Linked DNA regions of Homo sapiens. The protein of the gene in region 1 interacts with the protein of each later gene in a pairwise test. Each region holds a gene or a part of one and is shown in the gene's direction. Other genes may lie near its edges. The genes, in order: TMEM143, CSGALNACT2 and ABHD16A.

What was found.
Region 2: the proteins of TMEM143 (region 1) and CSGALNACT2 interact in binary tests that used the Homo sapiens proteins (3 or more experiments, as listed by UniProt).
Region 3: the proteins of TMEM143 (region 1) and ABHD16A interact in binary tests that used the Homo sapiens proteins (3 or more experiments, as listed by UniProt).

What each region holds. Positions count from the first base shown.
Region 1 is NC_000019.10:48,353,805-48,357,454, reverse strand, and holds part of TMEM143 (transmembrane protein 143), read left to right. Parts: intron 1-3,650.
Region 2 is NC_000010.11:43,158,853-43,162,502, forward strand, and holds part of CSGALNACT2 (chondroitin sulfate N-acetylgalactosaminyltransferase 2), read left to right. Parts: coding exon 1-79; intron 80-471; coding exon of another isoform or gene 472-496; exon of another isoform or gene 497-512; intron 513-1,641; coding exon 1,642-1,743; intron 1,744-3,347; exon of another isoform or gene 3,348-3,508; intron 3,509-3,650. UniProt on the Homo sapiens protein: Transfers 1,4-N-acetylgalactosamine (GalNAc) from UDP-GalNAc to the non-reducing end of glucuronic acid (GlcUA). Required for addition of the first GalNAc to the core tetrasaccharide linker and for elongation of chondroitin chains.
Region 3 is NC_000006.12:31,686,415-31,689,999, reverse strand, and holds the end of ABHD16A (phosphatidylserine lipase ABHD16A), read left to right. Parts: intron 1-33; exon of another isoform or gene 34-295; coding exon 296-419; intron 420-880; coding exon 881-985; intron 986-1,213; coding exon 1,214-1,277; intron 1,278-1,694; coding exon 1,695-1,751; intron 1,752-1,896; coding exon 1,897-1,959; intron 1,960-2,099; coding exon 2,100-2,176; intron 2,177-2,259; coding exon 2,260-2,358; intron 2,359-2,455; coding exon 2,456-2,502; intron 2,503-2,704; coding exon 2,705-2,788; 3' UTR 2,789-3,045; downstream 3,046-3,585. UniProt on the Homo sapiens protein: Phosphatidylserine (PS) lipase that mediates the hydrolysis of phosphatidylserine to generate lysophosphatidylserine (LPS). LPS constitutes a class of signaling lipids that regulates immunological and neurological processes.

The sequences.
Region 1 (3,650 bases):
GTGAACCCGGGAGGCGGAGCTTGCAGTGAGCCAAGATTGCGCCACCGCACTCCAGCTGGGCGATAGAGTGAGACTCCGTCTCAGAAAAAAAAAAAAAAAAAAAAAGAAAGATAGACTTGAATATGTGGATCTGGAGGTGAAGGGAGAGGTCTGGGCTGAGAAACTGCTGTGGGAGGATCTATTAATAGATGGTAGTACTGCCGGGCGCGGTGACTCACGCCTGTAATCCTAGCACTTTGGGTGGCCAAAGCAGGTGGATCAGCTGAAGTCAGGAGTTCGAGACCAGCCTTGCCAGCATGACGAAACCCTGTCTCTACTGCAAATACAGAAATTACCAGCCTGACCAACATGATGAATCCCCGTCTCTACTAAAAATACAAAAATTAGCCAGGTGTGGTGGCATGTGCCTGTCATCCCAGCTACTCAGGAGGCTGAGGCAGGAGAATCGCTTGAACCCAGGTGGCGGAGCTTGCAGTGAACCGAGATCGCGCCACTGCACTCCAGCCTGGGTGACAGAGTGAGACTCCATCTCAAAAAAAAAAAAAAAAAAAAAAAAAAAAAGGCCAGGTGCTGTGGCTCACGCCTGTAATCCCAGCACTTTGGGAGGCCGAGGCGGGCGGATCACCTGAGGTCAGGAGTTCGAGACCAGCCTCAACATGGAGAAACCCCGTCTCTACTAAAAATACAAAATTAGCTGGGTGTGATGGTGCATGCCTGTAATCCCAGCTACTCGGGAGGCTGAGGCAGGAGAATTGCTTGAACCTGGGAGGAGGAGGTTGCAGTGAGCCAAGATCGCACCATTGCACTGCAGCCTGGGCAATAAGAGTGAAACTCCATCTCAAAAAAAAAAAAAAAAAATTACCTGGGCCTGGTAGCGCATGTCTATAATCCCAGCTACTTGGGAGGCTGAGGCAGGAGATCGCTTGAACCCAGGAGGCGGAGGTTGCAGTGAGCTGAGATTTTGCCACTGCACTATCCAGCCTGGGTGACAGAGCAAAATTCTGTCTCAAAAAAAAAAAAAAAAAGGAGGGCCGGGCGTGGTGACTCACGCCTGTAATCCCAGCACTTTGGGAGGCCAAGGCTGGCAGATCACGAGGTCAGGAGATCGAGACCATCCCGGCCAACATGGTGAAACCCTGTCTCTACTAAAAGTACAAAAATTAGCTGGGCATAGTGGCGCTGTAATCCCAGTAGCTGTAATCCCAGCTACTCAGGAGGCTGAGGAAGGAGAATCACTTGAACCCAGGAGGCGGAGGTTGCAGTGAGCTGAGATTGTGCCACTGCACTCCAGCCTGGGCAGCAGAGTGAGACTCCATCCCAAAAAAAAAAAAGAAAAAAAAAGGAAAAAGGCACATGGGGCAGAATCCAAGACAGACCAGGCGTGAGCGTCCAGCTGTCCTCTCCCGGTGGAGTCATGGACGGCACTTAATTCTCCCAGCAAGATGTGTGACAACACGCAAGCAGTACTGCCAACCAGGGATGCTCCTGTAAGCCTGGGTGGCCAGGGTTTTTACTGGGGGTCAGTCACATATGCATGGTGGCTGACCTGAGACTCCAGCCCCTCCGAGGTCAAACTGATGCTCAGTGGCTCCAGGCCCTGACCATAGATGACAACATTAACACACAGCATCCAGTGTGGCCCCAGGCCCCAGGTAAACCAAGACACTCTTATCAGTCAGGACATTCCAAGGGCTTAGAGGTTCCCTCCCAGAAGCTGGTCCAGGGCCGGTCCTTTCTTTGGAATGTGCGGGGTTTGGACAACCCAGGCCTGCTGCATTCACCCCTCGCCACATCCCACCACTGCCTTCTGCAGCTCCGCACTTTGCTTTGAATAATAACAACCCCAGCAACAGTGGCCATCACAGCCCCTTGTTGCTGAGCGCTTGCTGTGTCTGGCTTATTGACTCCTTCCTGCAGTGCGGAGAGACAGCCGCCATCAGCCCATTCATACATGGAGAAACTGAATGTCTCAGAGGGCCCGGGTTGTGCCCAGGATCACACAGTTCATAATTGGTGGAGTCGAGATCAAGCCCCCGTCTGCCTGCCTCCAAGCTCTTCCACAGGGCACCTATGGCCTCTGGAGCCACGGTTGTTTTTTTCTTTTTCTATTTTTTTAAAAGTTAAGGCTGGGCTTGGTATGTCTTGTCTGTGATCTGAGCACTTTGGGAGGCCGAGGTAGGCGGATCACTTGAGCCCAGGAGTTCGAGACCAGTCTGGCAAACGGTGAAACTGTCTGTACTAAATATATAAATATCAGTCGGTTGTGGTGGGGGGTGCCCGTAGTCCCAGCTACTCAGGAAGCTGAGGCATGAGAATCACTTGAACCATGAGAATCACTTGAACCCGGGAGGTGGAGGTTGCAGTGAGCCAAGATCACGCCACTGCACTCCAGCCTGGGTGACAGAGCAAGATTCTTAAAAAAAAAAAGTTAAAAAAAGCCTATTTTATTATAGAAATGTATAAATATATAGAAATGTAGAAAGAACATAAGTGAATAAGCATATATCTCCCAGGCAGGAGATTTTAAACAGAGGCAGGGGCAGGGTAGAAGTGGCAGAGGCGGGTGAGGCCCGCTGGGTGACCATTTGCTGATGACTTAAGTCCTTTGAAGATGTGGCCTGGGCAGGGAAAGAAGCAGCATAGCCTCGGTTCAAACAATAGCTTGGTTGTTCACTAGTGGTGCGGGTGACCTTGGCGGGTGACCTCTCTCTGATCTTTTTTCGCTGATTCATTCATTCATTGAGTTCGCTCAGTAAATATTTATTGAGCACCTACTGTGTCTCTGGAATGGCTTGAGGCTCTGGGAGACAGTGGACAGCATGAGAGATGTACCTCACAGGCTCTGTTCTACTGAGGAAGAGACCAGCAACAAGGTACAGAAGTGAAATTTGGCCGGGCACAGTGACTCACGCTTGTTATTCCAGCACTTTGAGAGGCCGAGGTGGGCGGATCACTTAAGGTCAGGAGTTCGAGACCAGCTTGGCCAACATGGTGAAACCCCATCTTTACTGAAAATACAAAAATTAGCTGGGTGTGGTGGCGGGTGCCTATAGTCCCAGCTACTCGGGAGGCTGAGGTAGGAGAATCACTTGCACCCAGGAGGCGGAGGCTGCAGTGAGCTGAGATCGCACCACTGCACTCCAGCCTGGGTGACAGAGCAAGACTATGTCTCAAAAAAAAAAAAAAAAAAGAAAAAGTCTGGGCGCGGTGGCTCACGCCTATAATCCCAGCACTTTGGGAGGCCGAGGCAGGTGGATCACATGAGGTCAGGATTTCGAGACCAATCTGGCCAACATGGTGAAACCCCGACTCTACTAAAAATACAAAAATTAGCTGGGTGTGGTGGCACATGCCTGTGATCCCAGCTACTCCGGAGGCTGAGGCAGGATAATTACTTGAACCCGGGAGGCGGAGGCTGCAGTGAGCCAAGATCGCACCACTGCACTCCAGTCTGGGCAACAGAGTGAGACTATGTCTCAAAAAAAAAAGAAGTGAAATGTATTAAAAGATGTTTCCTTGTGGAGGCCCTGAGAGGGAAGCATCTATGGTGTCTCTCCTGGCTTCCTGTAGCTGCCAGCAACCCTTGGTGCTCCTTGGCTTGTAGATGAGTCACTCCAACCCCTGTCTCCATCTTCCTGTGGCTGCCTTCT
Region 2 (3,650 bases), on another chromosome or scaffold:
TCACTAGATCAATTATTAATATCATTGTGCCACTTGCTGAAAGAACTGAAGCATTTGTACAATTTATGCAGAACTTCAGGTAACTGTCAGGGCTTAATGATTAAGCTACATTCTCCTAAAAAAAATCACGTTTTACTCAGATTTCCTTAATTTATCTTCACCGATTATAATTACTTAGAATAATTTTACAGGCTTTAGGGGAACTTTATTTTTTTATATTCTCTCTTTTTTTAAAGCATGTGTAGTATATTGTGTTATAGACAATTTGAACTATGAAATAAATTAAGAGTGACACCTATTAGAAACTAAATTTGATGGCCTTGATAATTGTTTTGAATTCATTTTAAGACAAGTTGAATTTTTAAAAAATCAACTTTACTAAGGAATAATTTACATGCAGTAAAATCCACATATTTTAAGGATATAGGTATCATGACTCTTTTTTTATTTTTATTTTTTTTTTTGAGACAGGGTCTCACTCTATCACCCAGGCTAGAATGCAGTGGAGTGAGCACAGTTCACTGCAGCCTCAACCTCCTGGGCTCAAGTGATCCTCCTGCCTCAACCTCCCAAGTAGCTGGGACCACAGGTGCATGCCATCTTTTTTATTCTTTGTAGAGAGAAGGTCTTGCCATGTTGTCCAGGCTGGAATTTAATGTCTTTTGACAAACGTATACACTCACGAACCACCACCCCAATTAAGATACAGAATACTTGTGTCTCACAAGAAAATCCCCTTGAGAATGATTTGAGTTTTTTAATTGAAATACATTTAGACATACAAACATTAAACTAAAAATTGGAGAAAGTTATTTCAGCTTGCAAAGCAGAGAATTTGTAAAGTTTTTTTATGTTATCAAATTTGTATATTTTAAAATGCTGAAGTGTTAAATAATTATCTACACATTATGAAAACTATTTGTGGAAAATGCTTTTTGATTTAACAGTTTCCATGTTTCTAATACTTTAATATTTTTAATGTTTTAGATACTTTGATATACTGGTTTAATGCTTTGTGATCCTAGTCTTTATTCTCATATTGAAATTGTTGGATTTAAAAGGTTAATTAAAACTGGTCTGCAGCTGAATGTCTGGCAGTCATACTTCCAAGTGAGATTTACTGTTCCAAATAGCTCACTTGAGATCCGATTTCCTAAAGCATTTTTTTATTGCCTTTCTTGGAATTACTTTCAAAGGCCACATTATTATTTACAGTAAGTAATCTCAGTCATGGCAAATATTTATTCCTTAATGATAGTTACAATTTTTGGAATTAGCCAGTCTGAAGACAAAATAACTCTTAATCCAAAAGGTCAGTATTTATTTATGTGGTTCTGAACCAGTTGAGTTTATTTCCTTGAATAGCTTGTGATTTGCTTCTGAAAGCAATCCAAAAGCAAAAGTTCAAAAAATGTTTTGAAATAATGGCAGCAATGTCAGACTGCTTCCATGGCCCTCCAAGGGGTGCACTCATTCAGGCATAGACCTTGTGCCTTCCATAATTCATCAGTATTGCCACATTTATGTTTACTACTGTGTCAGTAATGCCTCATTTTCTTGTTAAAGCTTCATGTGGTTGCTTTCTTAATGAATAGTGCCTCATGTTTTCTTGAATAAACTTTTATTTTTCACTTCTGTTAGGGATGTTTGTATTCATCAAGACAAGAAGATTCATCTCACAGTGGTGTATTTTGGTAAAGAAGGACTGTCTAAAGTCAAGTCTATCCTAGAATCTGTCACCAGGTTGGTGAACCACATCTGCAGTGAAGGCCTTGATATATAACATTGCTAAAAGAGAATTTCAGATATGTAATGAGTTAATAATTTTTAGTAACTATTATTTAAAAATTGGCTGAGCATGTGGGCGGTGGTGGTGATGATAAGTTCCTCATTTCACATGCAACCCTACATGACTCAACTTCCCTTCACTGCTTAGCAAGCAGCCTGGCATGATGCTTTCTCTGTGGCCCACTCACCTTCTGTGTATTTGCTGCTGCTTTCCTTTTTTTAAAATCTAATTCCTTCACTTTGACATAATCATCTTCTGAATTTGTCTCTTTTTTGTCACCTTTCTTTCCTTCCATTTCCTCAGGCTCCTTCTTCTCCCCCTGCTAACAATGTTGAGGTCTCCCATATCCTTAAGAAACTCCCACTCAACTCTGAAGTGCCCAGCCACTACTGTTATGTTTCTGTCCTTTCACAGCTCAACATCACGAGACAGTAGTTCATAGCTAAGCAAGTCATATAGTACCTGGCACATAGTAGATGCTCAGAGGTTTGAATGGATGAATTAGTAATCCCTTAGTACTTAATTATTAATTCTTTAGCCTCTCAGCCTTTTTCTTTCTAAATCATGGGCCCAAAGATAACGACTTAACTGCCAAATTCTTTTCTGTTATTCTTTTTCATTGCTTTTTTACCTTTGACAACCTAACCAGTATTTCTGTCTTAAAATGTTCTTCTTGTGTTTGTAAAATGTAACTATTTTGTAAATGTAAGTATGATGTAATGTAAACTATTAGGTTGATTATCATCTCTAACCACACCAGCTCTATATCCTTTACTTGCTTCTTTACCTTTCTGCCAGTTGTGGCCATTTGCCAAGAGCCCAGATTTGATCAGCCATTCTTCTCAAATCATTCAACTCACATTCATTGAGTCCTGCCTACTGTGTTCCAGGTACACTGCTTGGGAGTTTGACTGGGGTAGTTGGAAGAAGAGTGGGCGTAGATGAGTGAATCTGAGTCCCTGACCTGCAGGGATTCTCAGAGCCTTGATGTATATAGACACAATTCACTGTCTTCCCCTTCCCTACACCAGCTCCTCCTCCTGATGGCCCTCTTTCAGTTCAGAGTAAAACCATTTTCACCATCTGGGCATGACTTCTGAGAGCCACAGTCTTTTACTTATTCTTTGCCTCCAGTTACCTCTAATTAGTTAGTTCCTACTTAATTCACAGGACCTCTTCTCTATCTCTTCCTTGCTACTGCCACCACCCTAACCCTGGTTCCCCCTCCCTCCATTTCTTCCCTTCCTGTCCCTCCTTAGTGTTTTTAGATCACCTACTAAGTGCCACAAGCTCACACTGGTAATACTGAAGTATTGTCAAGACACTTCTGTGGCAAATGGTGTAAACCTACCTTGAGCTTGCTTGAGGAAAATAGGAGCAGTATTGAAGAATCTCGGATACCTCCCAGAAATAAAGGGATTGTTACAACCAAATTTGGGGAAGAAAATCAAAACAACTCTTGTTTCTCAGGGATTGGAACCAGAGACTTGAATACCATCAAAATTCTCGTCTCCTTGTCTGTTTTTCTCTGCATGTTGACTTCATTCTCCTGTTGCAGATTGGCTTCTTCCACATGGTGAGGGATATGACTGTTGGCGGCTCTGGGCTCACATCTTCTCAGCTTTGCCATCAGAGAGGAAAGAGCTTTCTCCCAGCTCCAGTTGAGAAAATCCCAGGGAAGGACATTTTGCCCACTCTTGAGCCAATCACTATGGCCAGGTTGGGTGGGGGTATTGGGACTGGCCCAGCTTAAGCCTGGTCTCCACCCCTAGGAAATTACTGTGGTTGGGGTGGGCAGAGAGTGAGGGGTATTCTGTGATCAGTGCCTCCACTTGATGCTGAGTATGTGGGGTGGCAATGG
Region 3 (3,585 bases), on another chromosome or scaffold:
GGGCTGTGGATTTCTTGAAGGCGTCCCACTCACCTGAGGGCTGGGGTCTAGGAGGTTGTGAAGGCAGCATTGGGAGCCATGCCCCCATCCCCACAGTGCGGGGCTAGCAGGAGAGGAGGAGGTAGATCTCATTGTACACATCCGTCTTCTGGAGAGAACAACCTCTCCTACCATCCCTTCCTTCTACACCTTCTCTGCCTGTCATAGGTGGCTGCAGGAGGGGTCCACGTTGGGAGGGACAGGTGAGCTGGCCTTTGGTGCTGACACACTCCTGACTTTGCCCTTTCTCCTGCAGGGGGTGCCATTCCCGCAGAATGAGGCTAATGCCATGGATGTGGTGGTCCAGTTTGCCATCCACCGCCTAGGCTTCCAGCCCCAGGACATCATCATCTACGCCTGGTCCATCGGCGGCTTCACTGGTACCAGCCTCCCTCCCATCCCCCACTGTAGACACATTCATGACCACCCAGCCCCACCCGGGAGAGGTGGGGAAATGGGGTGGGGTGGAGGCTCAAGGAAGAAGAGAGAGGAAGTAGAATCTCTGAGTGGGCCTGGAAGAAGCTATCCTATTTGCATACACTTCACCTTTCCTTCCCCTCTTGTGCCCAGTCATTAAAAGGAAAAGCAGACCCAGGTCCTGGGTGGGGAGATCAGGGAAAGTGAATGTTTCCTGCCCATTATCTTCAGTGCACTATCTCCAGTGTTCTATCCCCATCCTCTCCAGATAGTTCCCTAACCAAGTGAAGTAGGTTAAGAAAAAAACAAGGGATAACATAGGGGGAATGGGGTTGGCCTATAGGGTCAGTGGGATGAGAGCATGGGTGGTGGGGAGAAAGGAGCCTTTCTCAGTTCTTACTCTTCTTCCCTGCCCTGGTACCAGCCACGTGGGCAGCCATGTCCTACCCAGATGTTAGTGCCATGATCCTGGATGCCTCCTTTGATGACCTGGTGCCCTTGGCCTTGAAGGTCATGCCAGACAGCTGGAGTGAGTGCAGCTCCCAGGCCTGCCCTTCCTGGGAAGGGGTGGGCTGGAACTGGGAACTGTTCTGAGATGGCTCCCTTTTCTTGGGTGGGGAGTAAGTCGCCCCATTGTTGGAAGCAGGAGGACTCCTTTGTCTGGGGGCCTCAGTTTTCTTTCTCCGTGAATAGTGAGGACCTTTATGTTGGGCAAGGGCTTTGTCTCTGCCATCCCTTCACCTTTATCCCACTCTAGGGGGCCTGGTGACCAGGACCGTGAGGCAGCATCTCAATCTAAACAACGCGGAGCAGCTGTGCAGGTGAGGGCCGGCCAGCGTCCGGCATTGAACACCTGCCCCCCATACAGCTCTGCTGGGCGCTCAAACCCTGAAACTAGTACTAAAGTGCAAGTTGGTAAAAGGCCACTGGCTCACATCCTGAGTGACCCTGCCACCACCTCAACTGGCCTAACCCCTCCCAGGTCCCCTGGGACTCTGGACCACCTCAGGATCTGGCAACCAAAGGGTTAAGGCCTGGCACGGCAGGGGTCTCCCAGCAGGGCCAGACTGAACCATGCCCCTTAAATAATCCCCTCTCACCCCTGAGTGAAGGGCTAGGTCAAGGGCTGTGCTATAGCAAGGGGAGGGTAAGAATGCTACCAGTGCAGGGATAGGGGTGGGCCAGTTGTCACCCGTCTCCCTCTGAGCTCTCCCTTCCCACTGCTCTGTTCTCTGAAGATACCAGGGTCCTGTACTGCTGATCCGGAGAACCAAGGATGAGATCATCACCACCACGTGAGTGCGTGGGAATCTCGGCCCTCAGGAACCCCAGAGATGGCCAGGAACTTGTCCCTTCTACCTCTGCCCACCAGAAACCTGGGTATCTAGACCCTTCCTCCTAACCTCCAGCCCCTCCAGGGTACATTCTTCTCACCCCCAGGGTTCCTGAGGACATCATGTCCAACCGAGGCAATGACCTCCTGCTGAAGCTCCTGCAGCATCGGTGAGAGCCAGGGTGTGTGCGCGCTGGGGGCAGTGTACACACACAGATACTGATACCAGCACAGGGAAGGAGGGAGGAAGGTTCAGGGATGGTGAATGAAAAAAAATCAGCCCTGACCTGTCCTGGCACTTCCTCCGTAGGTATCCCCGGGTGATGGCAGAGGAGGGTCTTCGAGTGGTGAGGCAGTGGTTGGAGGCCTCCTCACAGCTGGAGGAAGGTGAGAAGGGATCCAGTGAGGCTTGGGGCGGGGGCCCAGCAAGGTCAGGTTGCTGACTGGCTGTCATCTCTCTCCCTGACCAGCCTCAATTTATAGCCGATGGGAGGTGGAAGAGGACTGGTGTCTGTCTGTCCTCCGCTCCTACCAGGCAGAACACGGGCCCGACTTCCCCTGGAGCGTGGGTAAGGAGCTCCTGGGGCAGGAGAGAGGGTGGGAAGGGCCTAGGAAGGGGATGAATACCCAGATGTGTGGCCTATTTTGAGCGCCTCCTCTCTGCAGGGGAGGACATGAGTGCAGATGGACGGCGGCAGCTGGCTTTGTTTCTGGTGAGCTAAGGAGTGGGAAGTGGGAAGGGTTCTTGAATGGCCAGGGCTCACATAGGGGGACTGGGGATACCCTATAAGCATTGGAAGTGGCAGCTTTTGTAGAGTGGGTGGTGGATGCGGAAGTGGAGGGTGGGGAGGGAGTCCAGTGGCTGCCCCTCCCAACAGTGCTCTGTACCCCACCTGTCCCACCTCCTTTCCTCAGGCTCGGAAGCATCTGCACAACTTTGAGGCCACTCACTGCACCCCACTCCCAGCCCAGAACTTCCAGATGCCCTGGCACCTCTAGGGACCAACTGGGACTCATTATGGAAGAATGGGGTGAGAGGAGACATGAGGAAAGACCCTCTTATTTGTGATTCTCTGTGTTCATGTTGCTGTTTATAGTTTGTGGAAAGTGGGGGACCATCCCCCTTCTCACCACTGTTCCTCTTGCACGTTTCCCCTCATTCATGTGGCTGTACTTAACCTTCTCCAACATACATCCTGCATTACATGAATGGATTATTCCTAATAATTAATAAAAAGGTATTTTTTCTACTATCAGGCTAATTGTATAACTTCTCAAGTGTCCAGGGAGCCAGGGGCAGGTAGTGGGGAGAGCAGAGGCCCCAAAGAGCTGGGCTTTGGGAAACCCTAACTCTAGACAATCTAGCTAATCTAACCCTTCCCATCTCTGTGTCCCCCTAGGCCTTCAGCCCCTAACCTGAGCTTTCCTCAGGCAGCAGGTCCCCAAACCTCCCCGGTCCCTGATGTGCCTACTGTTATCACAACTGTGCAGCCTCCCTGGCCCCTCCCGCCTCCTTCTTCAGTTCTTCCTGCATACAACCACCCCAGGAGCCCATGGTTGCCCCCTCCTGCTTACGGCTCATGAGCTTTCTAGGATCCGATTTCACCTACCCAGTGCTTCTGCTGGTTTCCAGGTTCAACCTGCATGGTGTTACTAGCAGTACCCCCAATTTTCATTGCTCACCTCTTGTTATCTTGGTGAAGAGTGAGGAAGGGCCTGCTCCCCACGTCTTATGCAGCAAACCCTGCACACCCACCTTGCCATGTCATCAAGTCTCTGTCCTCACAGCCTTTTTG